Regions from separate parts of the Homo sapiens genome. Here regions 1 and 3 are each linked to region 2. A link means that fine-mapping ties the variant in region 2 to the plasma level of a protein whose gene starts in the linked region. Region 2 holds a variant in brackets. A gene starts in each other region. All regions are shown on their forward strands. Region 1 holds the start of LAMB1 (laminin subunit beta 1). Region 2 overlaps DHX38 (DEAH-box helicase 38). Region 3 holds the start of FSTL1 (follistatin like 1).

The links. A credible set is the group of variants that fine-mapping cannot tell apart. PIP is the chance, under the fine-mapping model, that this variant and not a neighbour inherited with it causes the effect. Protein levels are from antibody-based Olink assays in UK Biobank. Linkage for the fine-mapping came from a reference panel and not from the study's own genotypes, which makes the PIPs less certain.
Region 1: it holds the start of LAMB1, and the variant in region 2 is the best candidate, but not a certain one, in a credible set for the plasma level of the LAMB1 protein (UK Biobank, PIP 0.50).
Region 3: it holds the start of FSTL1, and the variant in region 2 is the best candidate, but not a certain one, in a credible set for the plasma level of the FSTL1 protein (UK Biobank, PIP 0.57).

Annotation. Positions count from the first base shown.
Region 1 is chr7:108,000,183-108,008,182 of GRCh38, forward strand. LAMB1 (laminin subunit beta 1) reads right to left here and starts at 2,979. Exons shown (of 34, transcript NM_002291.3): 1 at 2,929-2,979; 2 at 2,667-2,789; 3 at 1,376-1,551. The coding sequence starts at 2,703. RefSeq lists an enhancer at 817-1,417.
Region 2 is chr16:72,097,502-72,106,819 of GRCh38, forward strand. DHX38 (DEAH-box helicase 38) reads left to right here. Exons shown (of 27, transcript NM_014003.4): 4 at 176-280; 5 at 1,144-1,291; 6 at 1,426-1,544; 7 at 1,703-1,779; 8 at 2,231-2,386; 9 at 2,935-3,096; 10 at 3,585-3,692; 11 at 3,999-4,111; 12 at 5,573-5,710; 13 at 6,101-6,287; 14 at 6,445-6,630; 15 at 6,985-7,125; 16 at 7,526-7,636; 17 at 7,731-7,847; 2 more. Among named protein-coding and RNA genes, the nearest start is that of DHX38, 8.3 kb to the left of the region's middle. RefSeq lists an enhancer at 1,501-2,001. The variant C/T (reference allele first, on the strand shown) is at 729.
Region 3 is chr3:120,444,778-120,455,471 of GRCh38, forward strand. FSTL1 (follistatin like 1) reads right to left here and starts at 6,215. Exons shown (of 11, transcript NM_007085.5): 1 at 6,120-6,215; 2 at 5,907-5,969. The coding sequence starts at 5,969. It overlaps LOC124900546 (a long non-coding RNA gene), which reads right to left and starts at 5,877. Exons shown (of 2, transcript XR_007096030.1): 1 at 1-5,877.

The DNA of each region.
Region 1 (8,000 bases), not on the chromosome of region 2:
ACAATCACCAGAACTCAAAAAAAAAAAAAGTTTAAAAAAGTTTAATTACAGCCTCCCTTCTAATCAGGAGGAAGCAGTCTAGACATCTCTGTATAAACCTGGAAGCAAATGAACGGAATCCACTTTACCACATTCCTTTGGTCTAATTGATCAGGTCTCCAGAATGGGCTTTCTGCTTTGTAAAAGTGACTCCATTTTAAGGGATCTGCTGTGCAAACCACACACAATACTCTGTCCTCCTTCTGAAGGGCAATTGTACAGGTGGGTGGGCTGACCATGTTCTGAGCAATTAGCTTGGAACTTGCCCCGAATGTGAAACTGATACTTTCTGCTTTTGTTAGAGGCCAGAAATATCAGCCTTTATTTAAAAAAATTTTTTGAGACAGGGTCTCCCTTTGTTGATCAAGCTGGAATGCAGTGGACTGATTATCGCTTACTGCAGCCTCGACCTACTGGGCTCAAGTGATCCTCCCACCTCAGCCTCCCAGACAGCTGGGACCACAGGTGTGGACCACCACGCCCAGCTAAGTTTTAAAAATTTTTTGTAGAGACTGAGTCTATGTTGTCCAGGCTGGTCTTGAACACTTGGGCTCCAGTGATCCTCCCACCTCAGCCTCCCTAAGTGCTGGGATTACAGGCATGGAGCCATTTTGCTCCCGGCCAGCCTCCTTTTTAAAAATGAAGGAAAAGTATTCTGATTCTGAATATTTTACACTTTGTGTCTTCTTTTAAAATTACTTTTGACTTTGTATAAATATGACCCCTGAAATCTAAAATTTGGGCCCTCTTTTAGAAACAGGTAACACCCTGAAATTTCACTGTGGTCTTCCTGTATCAGGGTACCATGGCAACCAGGGCATTTCGTAAAAGCAAGCATCTGATCCTGATATCTAGTTGGGAACAGCACCAAATGAGGAGAGGAAAACGGGTTCGTTCAGTGATTGGAATCACCTTGCAAGACGCCTGTCATTGCTGGAATCCTCTTTACCCAAGTGAAGATGCGGTAGAGGGGGGTGGGGAAACCCAAGGGTTTTAAAAAGAGGATAAATCACCTTTAATGCACACTTCCAAAACTAAAGTTTTAAAAAACACACACACAATCAGGCCTTTTGGAGGCTCTGGGTCAGGGCAGCCAGGGCTGTCGGCAGTCCTGCCTTTCCATACTCACCGCGCCGGCAGGAAATGTGTGGCGGATGCAACTGTGCAAACTGAGATGGGGCGAAAGGTTGAGCTACAAGCCTAATCCCGGGACTCCCCGGCTGGCTGCGCTTCCTATCTGGATTGCTGGAAGGATGCGGAGTCCCCAGGGCCTGCCCCTTAGGTCTGGACGGGAGGAGGCGCTAGCAGAGCCTCGAACCCCGCTCTCAGCCCTCACCTGCAAGTGGCTGACGATACAGTAGGGTTCGGGCTTGTGCAGCCCGCACGTCGAGGTCACCGAAAGCTTCTGTGCTCGGCCGATGAGAAGGTCGCCCGTGGCGGGATAGCAGCTGCCTTCTGCGCAGCCGTAGCTGAACTCGGGTTCCTGAGCGCGCACTCGGGCTCTGCACAGGGCTGCGGGAAGGACAGGCAACAGAGTTGGGGGGACACAAGCAGGGAGTGGAGCCCGAAAAAAACGAACAAGCGGGGGCGGGGGAGTGGGTGCGGAGAGAGGACAGTCCATTCGGAAGAAAGCAAAATGCACAGAAAAGACAATGGAGAGATGAGCGCAGGAGAGGCTGGGAAGGCAGGGACTCCGAAAGGAGAAGGACACGGAAAGAAACCCACACACGTCATCAGGTCTGTCCAGCAGCGAGAGCCTCCCTCCCGGGAAACCCACCGACGCTCGCGCCCACCCTGATCAGCCCCGGGGAGCAGCTCCCCCAACAAAGGGTGGATGTGTAGACCCTCCACTTCGACGTGTCCGGAGCCCGGCGCAGGGAGGCTGACCCCCAAAGGGCCACACACCCACGCACGTGAACCCGCGTGCACGCGGCAGCCCGCGCATCCTCGGTGTGAGTGTGCGCGTGGAGATCTGTGAGCTTGGGAAGCGAGAGTGCGTGTGCGTGCACGCGCGAGGGTCACCGGCGCTTCGCTGGGGACGAGGCGCCGGGGCTCGCGGTGGACGCCGCTTTCCGGAGCTAGGGGAGCCCATGGACAGTCCCTGGGGCTCTGGAGTGGTTTCAAGGCTTCTCCATTCCAGGGAAGCGCCAGGTCCTGCTGTTTCTGGTGCCATCCGGAGACAAACAGAGATGGTTAATTAAAGCCACATGGCCCCCATCTGTTCCCAGAATGAAGCCTCCGCTCAGCTCAGGCACTCTCCTGGGCAATGGATTTTTGGAGAGCCCTCCTCGGTCAGCACCGCCAACCCCAGGGAACCTGCCCTCTGCGGTGGGGAAACCCAGGGTGAACCGGCCGAGGGTGCAAAACCCTGAGCGGGGGCCGCGGGAGGCCGCAGGGGCCGGGGCTTGGGCGCAGAGCCCGGGGGATGAGGGTCCGCGGCGCTCCGCGTGCGCTGTCTCCAGCCACCACCGAAGCAAGGGCGGTGGCGTTTAATCCCAGGGGCGTCATTTCCATCCAGTCCCTCTCCCAAGCCCCCAGGATCCCACGAAGGTGAGCAAGCAGCTTTTGGGTTTTCCTTCCCCATGCCCAAGTCCGTCCGCCTCCCCGCACCGTTTCCACGGAATTACCTAAGAAACTGAAAGCTAGCAACTGGAGAAGCCCCATGCCGGCTCCCTGCAGCCACGGGGACGCGGCAGAGGAGTGGAGAAGACGCCCGCCGAGCCGCCTGCCCTTTCTTCCCGTCTTCCTTTCTGGAGAGGTGGAAAGGAGGGGAAAAAAGGCAAATGTTCAAAGAGAGAAGAGGCGCCCTTCCATTTCCTGTCGCTCCCACGGAAGCGGGGGGTGGGCTGGAAAGTGGGGAAAATCGTGCAGCCACTTTGTTCTCCTCACCCGGCGACGCGAGCTCTCGCCCTGCTCCGGGAGCCCCCGAGCCCAAAGAAGGGAATTAGAAAGTTTAGCCTTGGGAGGAACAGAGGGAGGCGCCTCTGCTCATGCGCATACGGAGAGCCGGGGCTGAAGGGGCGGGCGGCCGCAACTCTGCGAGGACCGGGTGAGGTCCCGGTCCCACCCCCCGGGGCGCCTCTTTTGTTTGAAAGCCGAATCTGCGATCGCTGCGGGGCTGGGGCGCTTCCAGGTCCCAGGGCGGGTCCGCCCCGGGGTGCGCGTCCCAGAACGGCGCGCGGCGGGGCCGTCCAGCGAGGGGGGCGGATGCGTGGGGGCGTCTCCGAGGTGGGTTTTCAGGTTGCCCAGCCAGGGGGCCGGCGGGACCTACCGCGGACTCGCGCATTTACGTTCGCAAGAAGTGAATCACCAAACGTGCCCACGGCTAAAACTCTCGTGCGGTGCGCTCGGGGAAGGCGGGTTAACCCTTTAGAAACAGGGTCGACCTGTCGTGTTTGTTCTTTAGAAAGTGACACTTCCTCTCCGCCCCTAGTATCCAAGAGCTTGGGATGGGCGCGACATCTACAGTGTCTTCCTAGGAAGGAGGAGAAGCTCTGTGCGCCCTGCAATTCTTTGCGCACACATTTATTCAGGACCTATCTGTAATCCCTGTTACCCAGGTGGTCACGGCATTGAATTGAACGTCCAGTTCTGTTTTTAAAAAATCTACTTCCAACATGGTGCAACTCCATCTCTACTAAAAATACAAAAATTAGCTGGGCGTGGTGGCGGGCGCCTGTAATCCCAGCTACTCGGGAGGCCGAGGCACGAAAATCGCTTGAACCTGGGAGAAGGAGGTTGCCGTGAACCGGGATCGTGCCATTGCACTCCAGCCTGGGCAACAAGAGCAAAACTACGTCTCAAAAAAAAAAAAAAATCTTCCTACCTATATCCAGATGATGGCTTTAGCTCAGGTAATTCCTCAAATGACACTATTATTGTTACTGACTCCGTTTCCCATCTCGCCGTGGAAGAGTTGACACAGCCAGGAAGTGGAAATCTCTCATGAGAGGCACTTCCCCACAACGCTCATCTCGACGATTCTCCATGGTGTGCAAATGCTGAGGTGGGGAGAGGGCCTCTAATGAAGGGTCTCTAACAACACAGTGTAACCTGCCTGGTGAAATTAGGGGTACATAGAAACTCACCACCTTCTAGGGGTTGGAGAGGGAAAAGAGGTTGGTGACGGGACCCCACCACCCATTCTGCTACCCTTAGCAATGGACAGAGTCAAAGCTTGGAGTCCTGCTCTGGGCAAATGTGGCTGGAATTCAGGGAGTATAGTTAGTTGTCAGTCCAGTCAGGAGACTTGGCTTGTTTTCCAGTCATTTCCGGGAGAAGAGTTTAAGCGGCTAGCTGGTCAGTTTTTAACTTAGCTGTAACGAAATAAGGCCCAGAGAAGTTTAATCATTAGACCATAGAGTCAGCTGCTTTACGAGTTCGTAAGCCTGCACGAGTCTGAGGCAGGCGGGAGCCTTGGGGTCTAGGTGAGTGAGGCATTAATTATTCACCAAATCAGCACTTGCCCTGCTACAGCCTGGGGAGGTTTTGCCTCTGCTGAGGCTTAGGATCCTCTGCGCCGGCTGGGTAGCCTGAAAGCGCTGAGAAAGTCCTTGCTGTTGGGAGGCTGTAGAATTGCAATGGAGGGTCTTCAGGGCTTAATTAAAAGAAAAATATTAAAAGGCAAATGTCTTTTCTTCCTGTTGAGCTTTTAATACCCTGGGCCAGAGTTTCGTATTTTCATGTGCACACACTGCAAGCATCTTTCAGCTCCTTTTCTTTCTTGAGCCTAACCTCTGCTCTCACAGCAGCTGAGCCCTCCTTGCTACCTGTCCCTGCTCAGCGTCCTCTCCCCTTGCAAAAGGTCATTTACTTTCAGCACTGTTCAGAAGCCTACCTGCTCTCCTGATCACCTCACTTGCAGTAGTAAATTGAACACTACTGAGAAAATTAGGTTTTTAAAAATTTGCCTGTATATGTGCAGGGGGAGGAGTGTGTGTAACACTCACCTTCTGACCACTTCATCTATGAATTTGCCTACCTCCCTTCCCACCTGTATCTTTTGTGCTTCTCTCCTAGAAGTGTGCCCTCCTCTCATCTACTAAGTTCAGTGCTCTCATATACTTGCTCAGCCTCCTCCTGTTTTAAGTAAAAACAACACAAACTCTACATTGTATGGAATCAAAGCTTGAGCTCTGGAGATTTGCTCATGGAATCAAAGATTGAGCTAAGGAGAAAAGAGTTTCAAGAGGGAGATCTTGAAGCATAAGCCACAGAGATCAAATAAGATCACAATGGGAAAATGTCCATTGCATTCAGCAATTAGAAAGCCAAGGGTGGCCAGGCATGGTGGCTCATGCCTGTAAGGGGTGTGAGGCGGGTGGATCACGAGGTCAGGAGCTCGAGACCAGTCTGTCCAATATGGTGAAACCCGTCTCTACTAAAAATACAAAAATTAGGTGTGGTGGCAGGCGCCTGTAATCTCAGCTACTTGGGAGGCTGAGGCAGGAGAATTGCTTGAAACCGGGAGGTGGAGATTGCAGTGAGCCAAGATTGAGCCATTGCACTCCAGCCTGGCCAAAAAGAGCAAGACTTCGTCTCAAAAAAAAAAAAAAAAAAAAAAAAAAAGTCAAGGTCAGTTACCAAGAACCGTGGTGGAGATGGAAGCCACACTGCCATGGAATGGAGGAGGAACTTGGGGAAAGCAGAGCATAAGAGCAAACTATACTTTCAAGAACCTGAGCTATGAAGCCAAAGGAAGGATTGAGCAAATTCTAGGGTTTGCTCAATCAAAGCTTGAGCTTTGTTCCATACTCCTGCTCTAGGCAATGTGGCTGGAATGAAGGATAAAGACTCTATACTCCCTCTCCTTCCTTTGGAGAATCACCAAACGGTGCCCACGGCTAAAACTCTCATGCCCTGCACTCGGGGAAGGCGGGTTAACCCTTTAGAAACAGGGTCCACCTGTTGTGTTTGTTCTTTAGAAAGTGACACGTCCTCTCCGCCCCTCGTATCCAAGAGCTTGGAATGGGCGTGGCATCTACAATGTCTTCCTAGGAAGGAGGGGAAGCTCTGTGCACCCTGCAATTCTTTGCGCACACATTTATTCTTGGTAAGTGCCCTTGACTTTCTAATCTGAATGCAATGGACGTTTTCCCATTGTGATCTTATTTGATCTCTTTGTGGCTTATGCTTCAGATGATCACACCCTCCTTCTTGAGACTCCTTTCTCCTTAGCTTCCAGGACATAATTCCAGAATTTTCCCACAAGACTTTGACCCCTCCTCTCCCATTTATCTTGCCCTTCTCTGATCCCTTAAACATTGGTGCTACCAAAGGTTCTGTCTCTCTTTTCTGCTCCCTTTACTCATCCATATCCAGGGGTGCATCACTTGGACTCTCCTCAACCTCTAATTCCCATATCTCTAGCTTGTACCTCACTTGGAATTTACATACCATTTCCAACAGGCCATTGAATATCTCTACTTTGATGACCCATAGGTAAATGAAATTCATCTGTGGCAAAACTGAAATCTCTCCACCCACCTCTCCTACAACAAAATGTGTTCTGTCTTCTGTTTCCCATTTCAATTATTGGCACCATAATCCACCCCTTAGCTCAAGACGGAGATCTGGGAACAGGACTGGCTGCATGATTAGCAGGGCACAAATGTGGAGCCCCTCTATTATTATTAATGTAAAGACAGTGAAAGAGCATTAAACCTAGCATGGGACTCTCCTGAGTGGGGTAGGGGGTGCTGTGCAATTGCACAAATCACATGCCCATGAAGCCAGCCTAGCCTGGGAATCTTGGGCACCTCTCGTTCCTTCATTCCCTCCCCTCCCCATCACTAGGTCCTGTCATTTCTACTTTCCTAGCAACTAGCCAGCATGTCCCCTTGCTCCAACCTCATTGCCCTCCCTTAGATTTCAGTCTGAATGCCTGCCAGAGCCCCCGACAAGTGTTCCTACTTCCAGACTCTTCCTCTCTTCAGTCTAATCCTTCCTAATACCCGCAGAAGGATTTTTTCAGAGTCAAAACTTTGATCATGTCATTCCCTTATTCAAAAGCCTTCAATGGCTGCCCTCTGCTCCTTCCCTGTGTATGACATACTTTATTCCTTCATGGCTTTCCTTTCACTACGTGGGTCCTCCTTGACCTTGTCAACTTAGTGAACTGCACACCTTTGAAGACTCCTCTTAAACATGACTTTCTCCATGAGCCTCTCTCTCCTCCTCCTTGTAAAAGCCTGTTACAGCATATATAACATAATGCTGTAACTATTTGTTTATGCCCTTATCTCCCCCAATAGACAGTGAGACAAGGACAAGTATTGTGTAACATTCGTTTTTGCATTAATGTTGCCTTGCATAAAATGAGGCACATTACATGTGCTCAATAAGTGTGTCTCGAATGAAAGTAAATGAAGACTAGTCTCCATGTTTTAAAAACTTCCTTAAATCTTAAATGTCCACTTTTTTCTACCTTAATATGAATTTCTAGCCAAAGAGAAAAAGAAATACCACCACTTGACTTAATTTTGGGAATAATTCCAAGTTTCACTCACAAATTCTTCTCGTCTATTATATTTCATACAATTTCCTCTGATTTGTGAAGATGTGACAAGTTGAGGAGGAATGAATCTCTTCTGTTAGTAAGCCTGTCCAGGGCTTTGCTCTGGCTGTCAACACAACCCTCTCTCGTCTATCATTTGTACTAAGCTGGCACTACCTGCTTTAGCATAAAGCAGTCTTTACCAAAGAATTCTGCAGCAGTTTAAATGGCAGATGGGATTGCAAATTGTTGGCTGTTCTGTCTCAAAGAATGTGTGACAGTTATCTCCCTGCAGCATTTATTATTTTCGTTTGAAAACAAAACAAGAACTGTTTTCAAGGTCACCTTCACTTTCACACAGTCTTAGAACACCGTGTGTGTCTCCTTTGAAATCCTGATTGACAGTAGAACAACAAGGATGCTACATTCTAGACTTCAATCTTTGGGTCCTGAAATGTGGCTATTT
Region 2 (9,318 bases):
TATTTTTCCCCCTTGGGAGAATGGGGATAGGTGAGTTTCAGGAGTCCACGGATCACATTCGAGCAGTGCAGGTTGCACCTGTGAGTGAGTGGGCAGCCTGTCCTTTCTCTAGGGTGAAGATGTGTATACCTTAGGATGGGATGCATGTTTTTAAGCTTCGTGTGACTCTTCATAGATGAGCGGGATAGAAGTAGGCACAGCAGCAGATCAGAGCGAGATGGAGGGTCAGAGCGTAGCAGCAGAAGAAATGAACCCGAGAGCCCACGACATCGACCTAAAGGTAGACTCACTGTTTTGGTGGCTTGTGAGGATTCAAGTGTATAAAAGGCAGAGTGAGTGACTCTCGTCTTCAGTGAGATTGCTGAGGCATTGAGTCAGAATTCCCGATTCTACCATGAACATCTTGGGATAGTTGGTTCTGAGTCAGGTGGGCACAGCTCTGCACTTGGGGTGGATATGGTTCCTGTAAGGTGAGAGGCTGGTTTGCTGAATGGCCAGTTTTCCAAATGGTAGGAAAGAATAGGGAGCTGGAGGTAGAAGAAGTGTTTATTAAAAAGAACTACTTATATCCAAGAAGGGTGTGTTTGTAGAGATAAAGTAAATATCCCTTAAAATGTTGTCATAAACACAGAATGCAAACTGGACCATTGGCTAGGTGCAGTGGCTCATACCTGTAATCCCAGTACTTTGGGAGGCTGAGGCAGGCAGATTACTTGAGGTCAGGAGTT[C/T]GAGACCAGCCTGGCCAACATGGTGAAACCCCATCCCTACTAAAAATACAAAAATTAGCCTGGGGTGGTGGTGGGTACCTATAATCCCAGCTATTCGGTAGGCTGAGGCAGGAGAATCACTTGTACCCGGGAGGCAGAGGTTGCAGTGAGCCAAGATCACACCACTGTACTCCAGCCTGGGCGACAGAGCAAGACTTTGTCTCAAAAAAAGAAAAAAAGGAAAAATACATCCTGGACCATTAAAAATTGAGATATCTTTAAAAACTGTCAAAACCGATCTTAACCGTTATAGATACATGCAAGGTTTAGAAATAGTAAAAGGAGTAAATTTGGGGAATTGACTTTTGGCAACTGGTTCTAGACCATGTCATGGTTAAGTGAGATGTTTCCTGTGGATGTGTCTTTTGTGGCCCAGATGCAGCCACCCCTTCAAGGTCTACCTGGGAGGAAGAGGACAGTGGCTATGGCTCCTCAAGGCGCTCACAGTGGGAATCGCCCTCCCCGACGCCTTCCTATCGGGATTCTGAGCGGAGCCATCGGCTGTCCACTCGAGATCGAGACAGGTGATGTTCTGGGCAGAGCAGCCCAGTTTCGCTGGGTGGGCGGTAAGGAGCCTCGGCAGGGAGAGCAGATGGTGGCCAGGAGGACGTGGCTTAGCTCAGTGACAGTTTTGTGATGCTGGTGCTGCTGTTCCCAGGTCTGTGAGGGGCAAGTACTCGGATGACACGCCTCTGCCAACTCCCTCCTACAAATATAACGAGTGGGCCGATGACAGAAGACACTTGGGGTCCACCCCGCGTCTGTCCAGGGGCCGAGGTGAGGCCTGTGGGGCAGCAGGCAGAAGAGCAGGCTTGCTTGCCCTAGCGAGGATGAGCAGGGGCTGCCCTTCTGGAGCTGCATGGCCCTGCAGATCTGTCTGGGGCCGCTGGGGACAGGCCAGGGCATGGACTGACCTGCTTCCTGTGCTCCTCCAGGAAGACGTGAGGAGGGCGAAGAAGGAATTTCATTTGACACGGAGGAGGAGCGGCAGCAGTGGGAAGATGACCAGAGGGTAAAGTTTTATACCTCTGAGGGGCTGATCGGGGCTGGTGGCCGTCTGTAGATGGGTGACCCTCTAGCAGGACTGGGCTTTGATGAGGGTACACCTGAGCCCTGTTCAGACCCAATGCCCTGGAGTCTCTTTGCAGAGGCATAGACGGCACGGTGAACCCTGTCACTCACTGCAGTAGGCTGACCTAACTGTTCTGTTATGTGTTGGTGCCACCATGTGGTAAATCTAAGAAGTGCTATCGTGATGGGCTGCCCTCCAGTCCTGTGTAGTTGCCCACTGTGGTTCTCCTCCAGATGGCATGTGTCTGCAGGGAGGCCTCTCCTGCACCCCTCACAAGGGTAGCTCCACTGCAGTAGTGACTTCCTACCAAGCGTCCCTTCTTCTGTTGGCCATGTCTCGTGCATAAACTTGATCTGTCCCTCACTCCCTTGCTTTGCCTCCTGCCCTGCAGCAAGCCGATCGGGATTGGTACATGATGGACGAGGGCTATGACGAGTTCCACAACCCGCTGGCCTACTCCTCCGAGGACTACGTGAGGAGGCGGGAGCAGCACCTGCATAAACAGAAGCAGAAGCGCATTTCAGCTCAGCGGAGACAGATCAATGAGGTGAGGCTGCCTGCAGAAGTTGGAGCAGATTCAGAGCTGGAGGTAGAGCACGTGGGGAAGCAGCAGGTTATCCCCAAGTGAGGGCAGCACAGCTTGTCCCCTGATTGCCGAGAAGCCCAGATCCTCTGGAGGTGGAAGAGGAGTGGGTGATGAGCCTTTTAGTAGCTTAAGGAAAGCCCCGGCTCGTACTTCTCTCTTTTGCAGTACTTCCTTGAGGGGAAGTACTGTTGATGGGAACAGGTGCATTGGGACCTGCCTCTGTGGTCTGTGTTCTTTGTGTCTCTGATGTGGGCTAGGGACACTTACCATTTGTGTGTCCCTCTAGAGGTTCTGATTTAGATGAAAGGTGCTGCTGCTTGGAACAAACTCCTGCAGGTGATTTGGGATCAGCACCTCTTCTGTCTTTGGAGCTGTGGGTAGAGGCCTGTGACATCTTTGCAGCTACCAGTGGCCTTCTGTCAGGACTTGATGTGTGGACTTACCTCATAACCTTTCAGGACGACCTTTGGGGTGGCAATTTGAGTGTGGCTCCCATTGTGTCCTCACAGGATAACGAGCGCTGGGAGACAAACCGCATGCTCACCAGTGGGGTGGTCCATCGGCTGGAGGTGGATGAGGACTTTGAAGAGGACAACGCGGCCAAGGTGCATCTGATGGTGCACAATCTGGTGCCTCCCTTTCTGGATGGGCGCATTGTCTTCACCAAGCAGGTGAGGCTCCTCTGTGGCCAGGGACAAGACAGCTCAGAGAGACCTGATGTGGGCCAGGTGCAGTGGCTCATGCCTGTCATCCCGGCACTTTGGGAGGCTGAGGAGGGTGGATCATTGGATACCAGGAGTTCAAGGCCTGCCTGGGCAATATAGTGAAACCCTGTCTCAAAAGTACAAAAATTAGCCGGGTGTGGTGGCAGGCACCTGTAGTTTCAGCTACTCGGGAGGCTGAGGCAGGAGAGTTGCTTGAACCTGGGAGGCAGAACCTGCAGTGAGCAGAGATCACACCACTGCACTCCAGTCTGGGCGACAGAGCAAGACTCTGTCTCACACACAAAAAAGGCCTGATGTGGAGACAGAAAGAAGAGAAGGGAGAAAATAGCCCTGTACCATGAGAGGGTAGCAGTCCCTTTCACAAGTAGGGATCTTATGAACATGGCCTTCTTGCTGATTTTAACGGGCATCGCTCTTTCTCCCCACTGCTGCAGCCGGAGCCGGTGATTCCAGTGAAGGATGCTACTTCTGACCTGGCCATCATTGCTCGGAAAGGCAGCCAGACAGTGCGGAAGCACAGGGAGCAGAAGGAGCGCAAGAAGGTTGGTTTCTTGGTTTCGTGGCTGGGAAGTTTATGTGTATTTTTTTCTTTTTTCTTCTCTTCATAAGTCTTACTAGGCCCACAGATAGAAGTTAGGAGTCCCCTCTATCAAGTCCTTAGGCCCGACAGCTGCGGGGCCTGGTGTTGGGAGAGCTGGAGGCTTGAGGATTGGAATGTGGCTCGGTGCCACCAGCACTCTGGGGGAGTTTACCACCTGCGGGGTGAAGTCTGCTCTCCCGTGGGATTGATTTTCCATTGCTCGCAGTCATGTGGCAGGATGGAGCAGACTGACCTTTTTCCTTTTCAGGCTCAGCACAAACACTGGGAACTGGCGGGGACCAAACTGGGAGATATAATGGGCGTCAAGAAGGAGGAAGAGCCAGATAAAGCTGTGACGGAGGATGGGAAGGTGGACTACAGGTGGGCAGCCTCAGCCAGCAGCACATCAGCCTTGCTCCAAAGATGGGGGCCCATGTGGGCAGTTGCGGCAGAACCCATCGACTTTGTGGCTCCTGAGTGGGAGACTCTTAGGATACCTCTCTGCATCTTCCATTCTCTCTGGTCCCTTCCTCCTGGTCTCTTCACTGTCCTCCACTTTTCCTATATGTGATTCCTCCTCCCTCACACTGCTTCCTCTGGTGCTGGTGTTGTGAGAGGAAGGAGGCCCAGGGAGGTTAAGTAACTTGTCTGAGGTCACCCAGCTTGTCAGTGAGGGAGTTAGGATCAGACCCAGGCCGTCTCACATCAGAGCCACTCTGCTGAAGTACCTCCCAGGTGTTCAGCATGGGCAGCTGGGTTTTAGTCCCTTAGATTTGAGTTCACTATAAGAACTATTTTTAAAAGAGGTTCCAAAATAGAAAGGGTTATCTTATTGGCCAGTGACTTCTCTGCTCATAGAGGCATCTAAGCAGATGCTGAGTTGGGATTCCTGCATTGGGCAGGTGGCTGGACTTATCTGTCCCTTAAGATCCTCATCCTTCGAATGCCCTTATGTTCTACTGAACGGTCATCTGAGTTAATAATTCTCTCCACTCCTGTGTGAAATGTCCATACGAGAAGTTGGTACTATTGATCAGCCCTTATTCTTCTCTAGTTAACTTAATTCCTCAGGTATTAGTTATTGGGTGACCAGGAGGGACTGGGTGAAATTAGAAATAGGAAGCTCAGCAGAGCATGGGGCGGCACATCAGACAGGAAGTCTCTGGGGAGGGGGTTGGGGAGGGGTGTGTGGACTGTGTGGAGCACTGAACTGGTGTCTTTTTGCCAGGCAGCCTTGAGAAAGTGACAGTGCTCTGCATCTCGGGTGTGTACATGTGTCAGACATTGAGAGCTTTCAGTAGAGGTTGCAGGTTACTGTTTAGTGGGGCTGTTTTCACAGTTCTTTGAAAACAAAACCGTACAGACTATGCTTTCCTGCTGTCCTGCCAAGAGGAGGGAGGAAGTTTGACCCATGTCCCGTGCTCTGCACCCTTACCTCCTCACAAGGCCTGTGTGGCTATTTTAGCCCTTTAGACGTTGTGCTGAAATTGCCCGAGGGTATTTTCTACAAGTTAGTGACCTGGGGATTGATTTCCACTCCTCTTCTGCTCACTCTGTTTTGGTTAGAGGGTTTGCTAATATGGTGATCTGTAAATCCTCCGATCCATGTTCAGCTAGCTCTGTTGGACCCTGTGGTGTCGAGTGTGTTGTGGATGATGGATTCTCAAGTAGCAGTTTCAGTCCTGAGGTCGATGAGAACCATCTCAGATTCCCTGGCTGCTTTGGTGTCTCAGACTCTTGCCGAAGTCCTCATTCCTGAGCGTAGGAAGGAGGGCAGCAACCCAATCAGGAAGGACAGCATGGGGCACCATGCAGGGTGTTTAGGCTGCTGTGTGTTCCTAGGACAGAGCAGAAGTTTGCAGATCACATGAAGAGAAAGAGCGAAGCCAGCAGTGAATTTGCAAAGAAGAAGTCCATCCTGGAGCAGAGGCAGTACCTGCCCATCTTTGCAGTGCAGCAGGAGCTGCTCACTATTATCAGGTAACTTCACCCGGGGCCCAGGAATCTAGTGTCAAGTCAGGGGTGCCCTTGGTCTCCCATGTTTACCCAGGAGCTCTTTTTCTTTTGTGCATTGCACCCAGTGGAGAAGGGAAATACTTTTTTCCTCTGACCTCATGCCTGGGGTACACTGCACAAAGTAACGGGATGGCACCATTTTGTTTTAGCTCACCTGTTTAAACCTCACCGTATTCCAGATGTTTCAGGTGTTATCTCAGTAAGAGGCTGTTGTCCCAGTGAAATTCTCCCTTCTAAACCGGCATGCTCCCTGGATAGCTAGTCATGGGGATAGGAGGTAGCGGAGTCTTCTTGGAGGCTGGGTGTTGGCCTTCCACTTCGGCTGATAAGCCCTTTGCCTGCTTGTCCTTGTAGAGACAACAGCATCGTGATCGTGGTTGGGGAGACGGGGAGTGGTAAGACCACTCAGCTGACGCAGTACCTGCATGAAGATGGTTACACGGACTATGGGATGATTGGGTGTACCCAGCCCCGGCGTGTAGCTGCCATGTCAGTGGCCAAGAGAGTCAGTGAAGAGATGGGGGGAAACCTTGGCGAGGAGGTGAGTGGGCGTGGGGGCTGAGCCATGTAGTTATTCCCTAGTAGCTTCCACCCATTTTTGCTAAAGGGTGTGATCTGCTAAGACTCGGACCCCAGTACGGGGTGTGCTGGTGGTGAGCCGGTGGCCAGGGCATCTGAGCCATCTCTCTGACCTCCAGGTGGGCTATGCCATCCGCTTTGAAGACTGCACTTCAGAGAACACCTTGATCAAATACATGACTGACGGGATCCTGCTCCGAGAGTCCCTCCGGGAAGCCGACCTGGATCACTACAGTGCCATCATCATGGACGAGGCCCACGAGCGCTCCCTCAACACTGACGTGCTCTTTGGGCTGCTCCGGGAGGTGAGGGCTGTGTGGTTTGGTCTCTCTGCGCATGGGGTGTTGACCAGTGCACCACCAGTAGCTAGTGGGTTGCTCCAGGTGGGCTGAGGGGGTCTCTGGTAGGCCAGAGGTTCCTGAGGCCTCTGGTTGCAGTTCAGACTCGGGTTGTAGTTCATGCTGTTCTTGCTCTGCTGAGGGTGGCTTGGGGTTTTCTGGGCAGTGGCTCCATTGCTTCAGTCTTCATGATTGGTAAGAATTGAATAGGCCCATTTGTCAGCTTTGGCTTGTGTTTCCTCGGGGGTGGTGCTGATGGGACTGGGGGACAGGAGCCAAGGGTCCCCACCATGGGGGCCTCCGAGCCGCCTCTTCTCTCAGGTAGTGGCTCGGCGCTCAGACCTGAAGCTCATCGTCACATCAGCCACGATGGATGCGGAGAAGTTTGCTGCCTTTTTTGGGAATGTCCCCATCTTCCACATCCCTGGCCGTACCTTCCCTGTTGACATCCTCTTCAGCAAGGTATTGAGGCCACCATGTTACGAACTGACCCTTCCATGCCACGCACTTCTCTGATGCGAAGCCGGCTGGAGGGTGGAGGGTGGGTAGGGGACTGGGTTGGAGAAGATTTCCTGGGGACCATGGGGCAAATGGGGCAGCCTGCAGCTCTGGGACTCGGGGACAAAGGACTCTGCTCTGGGTGAGGTTTTGTTTCATTATTTCTTTGAGGCTGAAGTACAGGGCCCAGGGAGGCACTGTGCCCTCTTGTAGAGGCCTCGCAGTCAGGCCCATGTGGAGGTGTGGTGGCCCTCAAAGTCCATGGCTCCATTCCAGAGCAGTGCCTGGGCCACTGGGCTCCCAGGAGATGCCCGGCCTGCGCTTCTAGTACCTCCCTCTGACTGTGTCCCCACTGCTGTTGCAGACCCCACAGGAGGATTACGTGGAGGCTGCAGTGAAGCAGTCCTTGCAGGTGCACCTGTCGGGGGCCCCTGGAGACATCCTTATCTTCATGCCTGGCCAAGAGGACATTGAGGTGCGTGCCTTGGTCACGACTGTGATGAGCGGGTGTGTCTTGCATATGAGAGGTTAGGGTTCCAGTGTCTCACAGCTCCTCCCTGGGCTCTCAGGTGACCTCAGACCAGATTGTGGAGCATCTGGAGGAACTGGAGAACGCGCCTGCCCTGGCTGTGCTGCCCATCTACTCTCAGCTGCCTTCTGACCTCCAGGCCAAAATCTTCCAGAAGGTGTGTCAGCAGGAATGTCCAGGAGTGGCTCTTGGAGTTCTCTAAAGGAAGCGAGAGGGGATGTGACTGTCCTGGCAGGGGGTGGGCTAGGAGGTAGGCTTTTCCCCCTCGCGGAGCCTTTCCTGTCTCGAGGGACTCATTTTTCCCTTCCTGTATGTCCTGCTCTAGGCTCCAGATGGCGTTCGGAAGTGCATCGTTGCCACCAATATTGCCGAGACGTCTCTCACTGTTGACGGCATCATGTTTGTTATCGATTCTGGTTATTGCAAATTAAAGGTAAGAGAAGACATGGGAGGCAAGGCCTGGGTGTTCACCAGAAGCTAACTTAGCTGCGGGGTGGGAAGCCAGGGCCTCGCTCCTGGCCCTGGGATGTGGGGAGCGCGTGGAAGTGGTGGTGGTGGTGGGAGGCTCACATTGACTCACTGTGCTTGGTTTGTTTAACCCTTGTAATACTCGATGAGGTAGATAATTTAACAGTAGAGCTCAGAGAGCTGGTGTTTGTGGGGAAGACTTCTTCAGGTGTTCATGAGAACATTTCTAGAGCCTCCTGGCTCTTCCTCTGCCATGTGTAGCAACCAGGGCTTGCCTTTGTCTCAGGCCTACTTCCACTTTCCCCTCACTCTGTCCTTCGTCAGCTCTTTGCCGTCCCCTCCTAGGTCTTCAACCCCAGGATTGGCATGGATGCTCTGCAGATCTATCCCATTAGCCAGGCCAATGCCAACCAGCGGTCAGGGCGAGCCGGCAGGACGGGCCCAGGTCAGTGTTTCAGGTAGGAGCCCTGTGCTAGCCTGCTTTCTGGGGCAGCGCTGGGGTTGCTGAGCGTGGAGCCCGGGCGGGGGCGGGCAGGATGCTGGCTCTAGAGCTGGTCCCCAAGGCTGGAAGCTGCTGGCAGGGCTGCCACTTGTTAGTCCTTTCATCCTATGCTACTGAGTGGAAGGAAGGAGTGGCTTTCCAGGGATTTCAGAGGTCTGAGGCCAACCTACGTGGATGTAGGTACACATGCAGGTAATTACAGCCTGCCTCCCTTCAGAGGGTAGGTCTGGACAGATGATGCCATTGGTTCTTTTTATTTCTATTGTTCTCTTTCCCCATTTTCTTTCTTTCTTTTTTCCAATTAGAGACAGGGTCTTGCTCTGTCACCCCAGGCTGGAGTGTGGTGGTGCAATCACAGCTCACTGCAGCCTTGATCTCCTGCACTCAAGTGAACCTCCCACCTCAGACTCCCAAGGGGCTGAGATTGCAGGCAGGCACCACCACACCTGGCTAATTTGTTCATATTTTGTAGAGATGGGGTCTTGCTATGTTGCCCAGGCTGGTATTGTGAACTCCTGGCTTCAAGCGATTCTTCTGTCTTGGCCTCCCAAACTGTTGGCATTATAGGTGTGAGCCACTCTGCCTGGCTCTCTTCCCCTTTTTTGTTCCAATTAAAAAAATTAATGTATTCACTATAGAGCGTTAGTGAATATAGAAA
Region 3 (10,694 bases), not on the chromosome of region 2:
CTAACACATTTGTTTGTTGTACTTTTCTATAAATTTTTACAGTCGTGAGAATAAAGCTGGGGGGTGTGTGCTTTTTAAATTAAATTATAATCATTTGCCGGCGCTTCAAAATGTTTTTGTAAATGCTTTTGGTGGCACATACAGCTGTTCCATGATTTATTTAACCCTTCTCCTACGGTTGACTATGTAGTCAATGTTAAGTTTTTTGCTGTCATAAATAACATGACTGACATCTTATGTAGAGTCCTTTCAAAAGTAATAATGACCAGGGCAAAGTGGTCTAACAGAATGATTTGAGTTCTTTGTGGAATTCAATATAGATTACAGTGAGCCCTGGAATATCTATCCATCCACAAAACAGTCAAGAAAGCTCCCCAAAGCAGATCTAAAGTTTACTAAAATGGATTAATGTCAATTAAGGCTGTATTTCACTGTGTTTGCTGCACATCCTTGTAGCTAACAAGGAAAGCCATTTATTGTTAACAAGTTAAAATGTTAAAAATAACATCCAAATAGTAAGTCTCATATAGAGAGGATTAATTTATCTTTCATTAATTATTGAAGGTTTGCTGTTGTTAAAACATGGATTAAAAACTTGCTAAATGTTACCTGGGCTAGACACCAAGAGAAGAGACAGATTAAAAGATAGCCATCTTTGGGCAGAGAGTCATGAAATGTACCCTAGATCATCCCTATCCCTCATTTTCTTCATGGTAACTTTTCCTGTATGTAACTTCATGGTAACATACAGGTTCATACCTTTCTGTACTAACTCCCTCAGTCTTGTCGCATGGTGCCTACATGGGCCAGATGTAAAAGTTCATGAAGCTATACATGGAAGATTTGTGCATTTTGCTACCATAAAAGGATCTTACAAAGGAAGGCCCTACATTAATGTAAATTAAAAAAAAAACAGCAATAAGTATAAAGCTACTAGTTACTATGTAGTTATAATAATATAAACTGTAGCTGCCACGATTTAAAGCACCTGGACCCACCACTAGACTGTAAATAATGTGAGGGCAGAGACCATGCCTTGTGCTTCACTGTGACTCTGACCTGAGTACCAGGTGCGCTCAGCTGCAGCAGGGGATAGGCTCGATGAGGACAGTGAAGGGAAGGCCACGCCATTCATGGCATACTCTCAGAGAAAGCACCCCTTGCCAAAATCGCAGGAGTCAGAATAGAGCATCCTAAACAAAAAGTATGCATTTGCCCTCTGAGGACATTAATCATCTGGCTTACAAAGTGAACCTATCTAATGTACTTTTTTTCCCTATTAACTGGTATCATTAAGCTAATAAAATTTATGTCTGTTAGAAACATTCTGCCAGATGTCCAGTTATTTGAAGAGGACTAAGACAAAGAATCCATGACATTTTCAATTCTCATATGTGATCACTGGTAATTTACAGCTCATCCTTTACTTCCTATTCTTGTGGCAGCATGTGTTGCTCTGCCCCACTGACTTCAAAGACTTTCTTTTCGTCTTTGGGGCATTTCCTCTCGGATCATTACATCCACTTCAGCCCATGACCAGATCTTCACCTCATGGTTCCTCTCCAACTTGCTTCTATGAGCCTGGGGATGGAGTCCTGGTTTCTGTCACCCAATCCAGAGACTTCTAGGGGAACTGTAACGTGTCCACCTTCTAAAGCCACTTGCGATGGCCAGGGCCTCCTATGCTGGGTGCTTGCCCTTCTGTTCTGGCTAGTCTGCACAGCCCCTGCTATGTTTTACACCCCAATTTCCAGCAATGGTCTTTAGAACTGCAACAAGTAGCTTATTTGCCAAAGGATAAACAAGCAAGAGATCATTTTAGAGATCTTTTTAGCTTTGTTAATAATACAAGTTGTGGCACCAAGAAGATGCAGTCAGAGATATGGGTTAGATGCAAGGCTTACTTGAGTCTACCATCAGAACAATTCTAAAGAACATAGAGGAGCTCCCAAATATAACCCCTAGTGTACAATGCCGATAATAGGGTACGGTGAGGTTAAGAAACGTGGCCTCAGGACAAAGCCCTCATAATCTTCTAGTATTGCATGTCTAGAGCTAAGTGAAGTACATCTATTTGTAGAATTGCTATTGTTCTCTCTTAGGTAATACACTCAAAGTTCATGGGTCAAGCATGGATCCCTTACTGGAATGAGGATTCTGAACTACAAATCAGTTAACTGTACATGTGACTTATCATAATGAATTTCTAGACCTGGAATGCTGGGAATCATAGTGACAGCAGAGACATCCACCAAGGGAGAGTGGGGGTATGCTTGGGTACTTGCCAGGGCTGTCTTCCTAAAGCAGGCAGTTGGGCCACAGGGTTCTCTCCAGCCTGCCATGTTAGAGTGACAGATATCCACTGACTGAGCTTCAAGGGCACACACACTACCGCCTGTGTTCTTAACATTTTCCCAGGCTCCATACTATGCATCCACCATCAACACTTCTCAATGAACTGTAGTAATTCCCAATGGGAGGGGGATGGGAAAGAGTAGATGAGCAGGCTCACACAGTCCTCTCCCCAGAGAATCTAGAAAAGGGATATCTGTGTAATTATTAGTGCAGGCACTCCCTCTGCTGCTGCCCTCTCTGCCTAGTCCATTCACATGTTAATCTACACACATCTAGAGACATATGCTACACCCAGTACCTTCTTTCAAGCAGACTACAGAGTGCATGGGTGTGTGTGCTCAGGTGGATGTGGCAGAATCTGGAGGGAGGCTGGCTGAAGGTATATGCTGCAGACAGAGTAGTAAGAGAGTGAGCAGGTAAGAAAGAGAAGAAGCAATCAGAAAGCAACCCTGAGGTGCCAAGGAAGTAGGACACCATGGAACACATTCAAAACAATATGACACTTTGCTTAATGAGTTTGTTTCTATTTTTTTAAATACAAGGTTTCACTCTGTTGCTCAGGCTGGAGTGCAGTGGCACCATCACGGCTCACTGCAGCCTCAACCTCCTGGGTTCAAGTGATTTTCCTGCTTCAGCCTCCTGAGTAGCTGGGACCAGAGGCGTGTGTGCTACCATGCCCAGGTAATTTTCTTATTTTTTGTAGAGATATGGTCTCACGATGTTGCCCAGGCTGGTCTCAAATTCCTGGGCTCAAGCAGTCCTCCCGTCTTGGCCTCCCAAAGTGCTGGGATTACAGGCATGAGCCACTGAGCCCAGGCTCCTTTATGACTTTTGTTAATAGCTTTGTGAATCTAACCAAATGGGATTGACATAGACTGGCATTAATACTGATGACAATCACCTTTTCCCAAGTGGAGAGCACCTCTGATTCTGGTTTACTACAGAGGCTCTGGCTTCTTCAAATATCAACATGATTTGTAAAGTGATTAAATTGTTTAAAAATATGCTGAATTAAATATTTATGGTCGCAGAAAAGCAGAAAGCACCAAGAAGCCTCAATTTATTTTCTAAATTTCATTTCTAAAAAGTTCAACAATATTTGTACAATTTTAGCGATTTGAAGTTTACTAAAATAGATTGTCACTAAGGACTGTAAATATCATGATGTGACCATTTTTGCAGACTGTCCTTAGAGTTAACAAGGAAGAAATTTAAACAGCAAGCACCATTAACTACAAGATAAAAGGCTTTTAAAAAATCCAAATTACAATTCCCATAGGGAGAGGGTTAATGTACCTCTTCATCAATTGTTAAAGGTATATTATTATTAAATGGATTAAAAACTTGCCAAATCTTACTTGGCCAGGCACCAGGAGGTTGGAATAATTAAAAGATAATAATCCTTAATAACCTGGAGCCATGAAATGTAACCTAGCTCATACCTACCCCTCACTCTTTTCATTGTAACCATTTCCATACACTGTGAGTTCACAGCCTCTTTTCTCCCCCAACGCACTCTGTTTTCACATCTCAGTACTTCTCTATTTTGCCTTCTTCCCTGTAGTTTGCCTGGGAATTATGTGAGAGCACTGGATGCTCTTCTACCTCCAGCAGGAAATTGCTGCTGGGGGAACTTCCTACCAGGGATAAGTTTTCCCTGTGTGGAAGGGGGTTGGGAGGGGTGTGTGTCTTGCAGGCCGCCTAGAATAGATTCCAGACCTTGGGCCACACAGCCTGGTAAGTCAACCAACAGCCTCCTCACACCTCATATTTGCATTCCAGTTCACTGAGTGATTTCACACACTGGCTGGCAATTCTTGAGCCTGCTGGAAAACCAACCAGGGATTCACCTCATCCATCACTGGTCTGCAACTGCCTTTTGAGGGCCACAGCAGGGGATGGAGAAATGTTTCTTAACCAGGGCTACATCAGCCAGTGAAGGGGGATACGCTCTCAAATGCAAACCCTGGAAAACCAGATGGATAAGAAGCAGACCTGGAGTTCAAGATGGGCTCCAAAGGTAAGAGAGGTAGGTTCAGATCCTGCTTCAGAGCTAACTAGTTGTATGACCCTGGGCAAGTTACCTAATCTCCTTAAACCTGTTTCTTCCTCTGTAAAATCGGGATAATAAAACCTACATTACAGGGTTTGGGAGCTTTAAAAGAAGTAACTGCAGGTAACGTACACAGCCCAGTGTGTGGTAAACAAAAATGTACTTGGTAAATGTTAAACCATTGTGCTTGGAAGTGGTGTGGGTTAATGGTCAAGAGCCTTGGGTCCGGAGCCAGACTGTTTGGGTTCAAATCCCACCCTTAGCATTTAATAGCTGAGAGCATTGGGTAACCTTCGCTGACTCAATTTATCTGTCATTAAAATGGAATTTTATTACAACATAGCAGATATTTAATAAATATTAGCTACTTTTATTTCATTGGCAGTAAAAACAGTTGATTGAGTTTCCACCTCAATCAACAACGTAGTAGTGAATTAAATGAGAATTCAGTACAATGCGTATTTTTTAAAAATTGTGAAGACCTTGTATGCATTTATGACTTTTTTGGGCAGAGTCAAGCTGCGATGCTAAGGGTGTGGTTAAACTGTAATATGAAGGAAAAAATTCAAACAGGGAGCATAAACCACCCACCAGGGAGCTATTTCTTTTGTAATGTGCATTCCATTTCTTCTCCCTCATGCTTTTTAATTCCTTCCATATTTCCTGCCATAATTATCAAATGTTTAGTTTCTGACCTCACTTTCCTGGAGACTGGAGCCCGGGGAATTTAGAATTGTTTATTTTCTGTCCATAAACCTTTGAGTTAATGGAGCGGCTTCTGAGCAAAGAGTTTGTTGGTTTGTTTGTAGTGTCTCAGGAAGGTCGTTAGAGTTGAAAAAATTGGTACAAAAAAACAAGCGCTGAAATGCTTTAACTGGAAACTCGAGCCCCCAAAGAGCAGAGCAATGGATCTTCTCTTACACTTGCGCAACGTTACAGGGAACACTTGGGAAAAGGCCGTTACATTGCCCAGATGATAACACAAAACCCGAGGACACTTCACAAAGAAGAAAATACATTTCAGAGAATCATGATCTCACTTTAAAAGAGAGAAAGGAAAATTAATTTTGCCCCAAAAGAAGAATCCCGATTCCTCTGCCCCCGCCCCCAGGAGACAGACTTGGGAGGGAAAAGTCCCCAACTACTCTCAGTCTCCTCTGAAGTGAAGGACGGAACTGAGGCGCCTTTTTGAACTCGCTGCTGCTCCAGTCGCCGCCTCGTCCCCGTCGGCCCAGCCCGTCCCCTCTCCTCCTCCCCGCTCTCCCTCCATGTTAGCCGCGGCGGGGCTCCCGCTTACGGCCCGAACTACTTTTCCTGCTTTAAAGATTTAAGTTTCGTAAGCAGCATTACTGCCCCAGCTCCACCCCAGCACACCCCAAGGACCGAAACTCCCAGCGCCACCCCGGGAGAGCATCCCCAGGACGCGCGCCCACCCGCCCAGCGCGCAGACCCAAGAGGCCCCGGGGACCGAGTTCGGACTCCTCGGCCCCTCGCCTACCTCGGCGCGGACCCAGGCGACCGCCACCAGCGCGAGCGCGAGCGCGAGCCAGCGTTTCCACATCTGCGGAAGAGAGAAGAGAGCGAGTCTGAAGGCGCCGGGCCCCGCGCTGACCTGGGAAACTTGCTCGGGTCCCGCAGGCTCGCTCCGGCCGCCCAAGCACCCCCGGCCGCCCGAAGAGTCCGGCCTCCGCGCCGTGCGCCCTGCGCTCACCGTGGTCTGGTCCAGGTCTCCTGGGGGCGCGGGGCAGGACGGCGGCAGCGAGCTGTAAGCGGAGGTGGGAGCTCCGCCGATCGCCAGCCTCGGAGGAAATGCGACCTCCCCTCGCCGCCCCTTAAGACCTCTCCTTCCCCGCCTGCCTGCCCCCCCAGCTCCTCCCCATTCTCCTCCCCCTTCTGCTGCAGCGGCCCCCGCGGCTCCCGCTCCCCCTCCTTCCGACCCCTGCTCCGGGGAGCCCGCGGGAGTCCTGGCGCCGCCGAACCCCTCTCTCCGCACGGTCCCTCGTCCGGCGCCCCTTCGGCCCCCTGGACGTGGAGCGGAGGCAGAGGGGGTGTCCCGTGGGTCCCTGCCACAAAGGGGTAGGGGGAAGGGAAACCCCACCCCGGGAGGGGCTGCTGGCTGGCGGCGGCCCGGGCGGGCTGCGGCGGTGGCCAGGTGGGCGGTGCCGTGGGGGGCCCGGGAAGGTCCGGGACTGGAACCTGGAGGAAAAGACGTCCCGCGGCCTAGGAAGCGGAGCCGCCCCCCATGGCTGAAGGGGGAGGCCCAGGGAGGCAGAGGAGACCCCGCATCCCGGGGTCACGGCAGCAGGGCAGCGGGGCACCGGGAAGTGGGCGCAGGGCCGGGAAGACCGGCCGGCGTGGGGAAGGCTGCTGTGGGTTCTACAGTGCATTGTCCCGGGTGAGGTGGCGGCCGCCCTGCTCTGCTGGGAAGATCCTGAGTCCAGCGTTTGCCGGCAGCCTCATCCCCTCCTTCCCTCGGGCCGGGGAGCGGTGTCCCCCTCCTCTCTTCCGCCCACTCACTCATCACCTGTGTCCCTCCTCCCATCCCTGTCATCCCAAGTAGCCTCTGTGTTCAGGATTGCCATCTTCACCACCTTCTTCCCAGCCCTTGGCCTTCGAAAGTGTGCTACCTCTTTGACAGGGTTAACTCCCTAAAATGCTCCTAATTAAGGCGCCTTTCCTGCCATAACTAGTAAGGAGAGCAGATCCACTTAGCAACTCAGATTTCACATGCCCAAGACTAAGCCTCACTTCCCCCAGCTTCAGGGCCTGCTTATCTACCTCTTTCAGGGTGGTTGCCTTCAAACCTATCTCCTTTTCTCAGAGCCGGCTTGTACCCATAGCCTGGCAGTTTAGCCGCTGAGATCTCATATGCATCCCCTCGCCTCCGTTCACATGTCCACTTTCCTAGGCCAGACCTTCATCCTCCCTCACTCAGAAATTCTGGAAACCTCCTTTCGTTGTCCTCTGACTCCAGGCTCTCCCCTGTAGTCTCCACTGCAATCCATTGTCATATTCTTTCCCTTATTTTAAACATTGTCTTCCTCGTGTTCATGTTCTTCCTCTACTCAGAAACTTCAGCGTTCTTCTACCCACATCAAATCCAAACTCTGCCTTTCTTATAAGCCCTGCATTACTGGGCCCACCCTGTCCATCTAACTTCTCTTCAACTACATCAGCATACTTCCTCCGCTCAAAGCAGGCCCATCTCCTCGTTGTCCTCTGAACTTGTCATACTCACTCTGCTGCCAAGGTTTGTTGAGTGCCCACTGTTGTGGCTTTAGGGGGCTTCAAGATAATACCCATGGTCCCCATGTAAGTTCAGAATCCACTGAGATAGCAACAGGAGTCAGACTTATGGAGAGCAAAATGTCAGCTTTGTCTCTGCTAAAGGCTGGAATGGCAGCCATGGCTTTAGATCTGCAGGGACAGCGGGCCCAGAATTGAACATGTCCACTCAGTCACAAGCAGAGCTGGAAAACCTGCCTGTGTAAAAACTAAACTGCATGGAAAAGCAGAAAATATGTGCCTCCTGGGACATGCCTGCTCCCCAAACTTGAGGGGGTAGAGTGACACATCCCCAGTTCTTTCAAACTCTCCAGTCAGACAACTTACTCCTGCTCCCTTGTTATGGTAATAAGATTAGGGAATAGATGTTCCGCACCAGATACTCTGTCTTGGTCACTGTGCAAGGATTGAAGGGAACTATTGTGGATAAAGTTCTGCCCTCGAATAACGCACAATACATTGCATCCCTTGCAGATCCACTGCACCCTCTCAGAATCTGGTATCATCTTTCCTCCCTTCCTCTTATCTACTAAAATGCTTGGGTTTGTTTGTTTGTTTTGTTTTCAGGAACCACGTCAAGTTTGCTTCCTTCATATCTTTTCTGACAACAGCTTGGCATGGTAGAAGGCACAGGAGGTTTGAGGTCAAACCAATCTGGCTTTCCATCCTATCACTGCCATTTACTAGCTGCATGGCCTGACTTGCATCAAATAATAAGCCCTCTGAACCTAGGTTTCTGCCTCTGACAAATGGCAGTGATAATGCCTTGCAGGGAGTTGTGAAATTTAAGCAGATGCATATAAAAAGTGCCTGGCAGGTAGTAGACCTCTGTATGTGATAGCCATTATTATTTCATGATCGGCTTTGCATCTAAATTGTAGTTGGTACTATACACCAGGTACTATGAAAGCCATTCAACATCTCTTATTTTATTTAATTTTCACAATAGATAGAAAGGAGGCTGGGCACGGTGGCCCATGCCTTGTAATCCCAGCACTTTGGGAGGCCAAGGCAGGCGGATCACTTGAGGCCGGGAGTTCGAGACCAGCTTAGCCAACATGATTAAACCCCGTCTCCACTAAAAATACAAAAATTAGATGGGTATGGTGGTGGGCACCTGTGGTGCCAGCTACTTGGGAGGCTGAGGCACCAGAATTGCTTGAACCCGGGAGGCAGAAGTTGCAGTGAGCCGAGATTGTGCCACTGCACTCCTGCCTGGGCAATAGAGAGAGACTCCATCTCAAAAAAATAATAACAATAAAAAATAAAAATTTAAAAAATACAGTAAATGGAAAGGTCTTTTTTATTGCTTCCGTTTTCCAAATAAAACTGAAGCTCAGGAAGATTTAGATACTTTCCCAAGTTTATACTGTTGGCTACACAGCCTTACAACTTGGGGCATTATATTGCAGACTGCTATACAATGTTTAACACTTGTTCTCATAGTTATTCTTGATTCTCCAGCTAGTTTTAAGTTGCTTAGAGCAAAAACAATGTTTTTCATATCTTTATCCTCTCTACATTTGGAACACAATTAATGGATTTGAGTATATCAAAATGAAATGAAAGATTCCTGTTCAACTGAGGGCACCATAGACAAAATGATAGAAGGAGATATAAATGTCTAAAACTGACATGTAACTCATAACACACACACATACACACACCCTGCAAATCAATCAGAAAAAGAAAACCCAATAAAAAAGGGCAATAGGTATGAATAGGCAATTCCCAAAAGGGGAACCCCAAATGGACAATAAATATAGAAAAGATACTCAACATCACTACTATTATTTAAATTGCACAACAACCATTTGAAATCAGTATTATTTTATTATCTCCAATATACAGATGAAGAAACACACACAGAGTTTAAGTAGTTTGTCCAAAGTTATACAGTAAATTATAAATGTCACTTTACACTCATCACAGTGGCAAAAATCAGACAGTTGGACAATATCAGTGTTAGCATGTGACTAGTGCAATCTTTGTGGTGTACTGTAGCAATTAAAAGCATGGGTTTATGAGACAGACTGCCTTGGTACAAAATTGCCTTGGTAGTAAATCTTAGCTTTACTACTTATTATGTAACCTTGGGCAAGTTACTTAACCCCTTGCATCTCAGTTGCCTCATCTGTAAAATCGTGATAATTGTACTGATTTCATAGAGCTATTGTGTAGATTAAATGTATCAATATGTAAAGTACTTAGAATAGTGTCTGGTACACAGTAAGCATATAAATAAGATGTATTACTACGGAAATAATTCACTAGAGAGCTCTTACAGGTACTGATGATAAAACTGTGCTGTGGCGTATGGTTAACTCTACAATAAATAAAGCAAAAGACAAAAATAAACTATGCAGTGGAGAAAATATTTTGAAATGAGATATTTGGAAATGTCTTATCATTAGGCTATTTTGTTATCCAAAACAATAAAAGTGTGGCACCATAAAAACTCTCGTGTATGCACATTTTAAAAACTTACACAAAATTTTCTAACCTGTTTAAAAATCTTCAGACAGAATTCCAGTGGCTTATTTACTCATTTGTTGAAAATATAAAAATATAATAACTTGGGACCAGCATGGTGGCTCACACCTGTAATCCCAGCACTTTTGGAGGCTGAGGTGGGATGATCACTTGAGCCCAGGGGTTCGAGACTAGCCTGGGCAAATGTGGCAAAACCCCGTCTCTATAAAAAATATAAAAATCAGCTGGGTGTTGTGGCATACCCCTGTATTCCCAGTTACGGGGGGAGTAGGGGGCCAAGGTGGGAAGATCACTTGATCCTGGGAGGTGGAGGCTGCAGTGACCCATGATTGCACCACTTTACTCCAACCTCCGTGACAGAGAGAGACCCTGCCTCAAAACAGACAAACAAACAAAAACTAACCAACCAGCCAAACAAACAAAAAACCTTTCAATTAATTTTGATTTCCAGAGCAGATGGGAATTTATGAGCCAAATTTCAACAAAAAAACCTTCGCATGAATGGTTT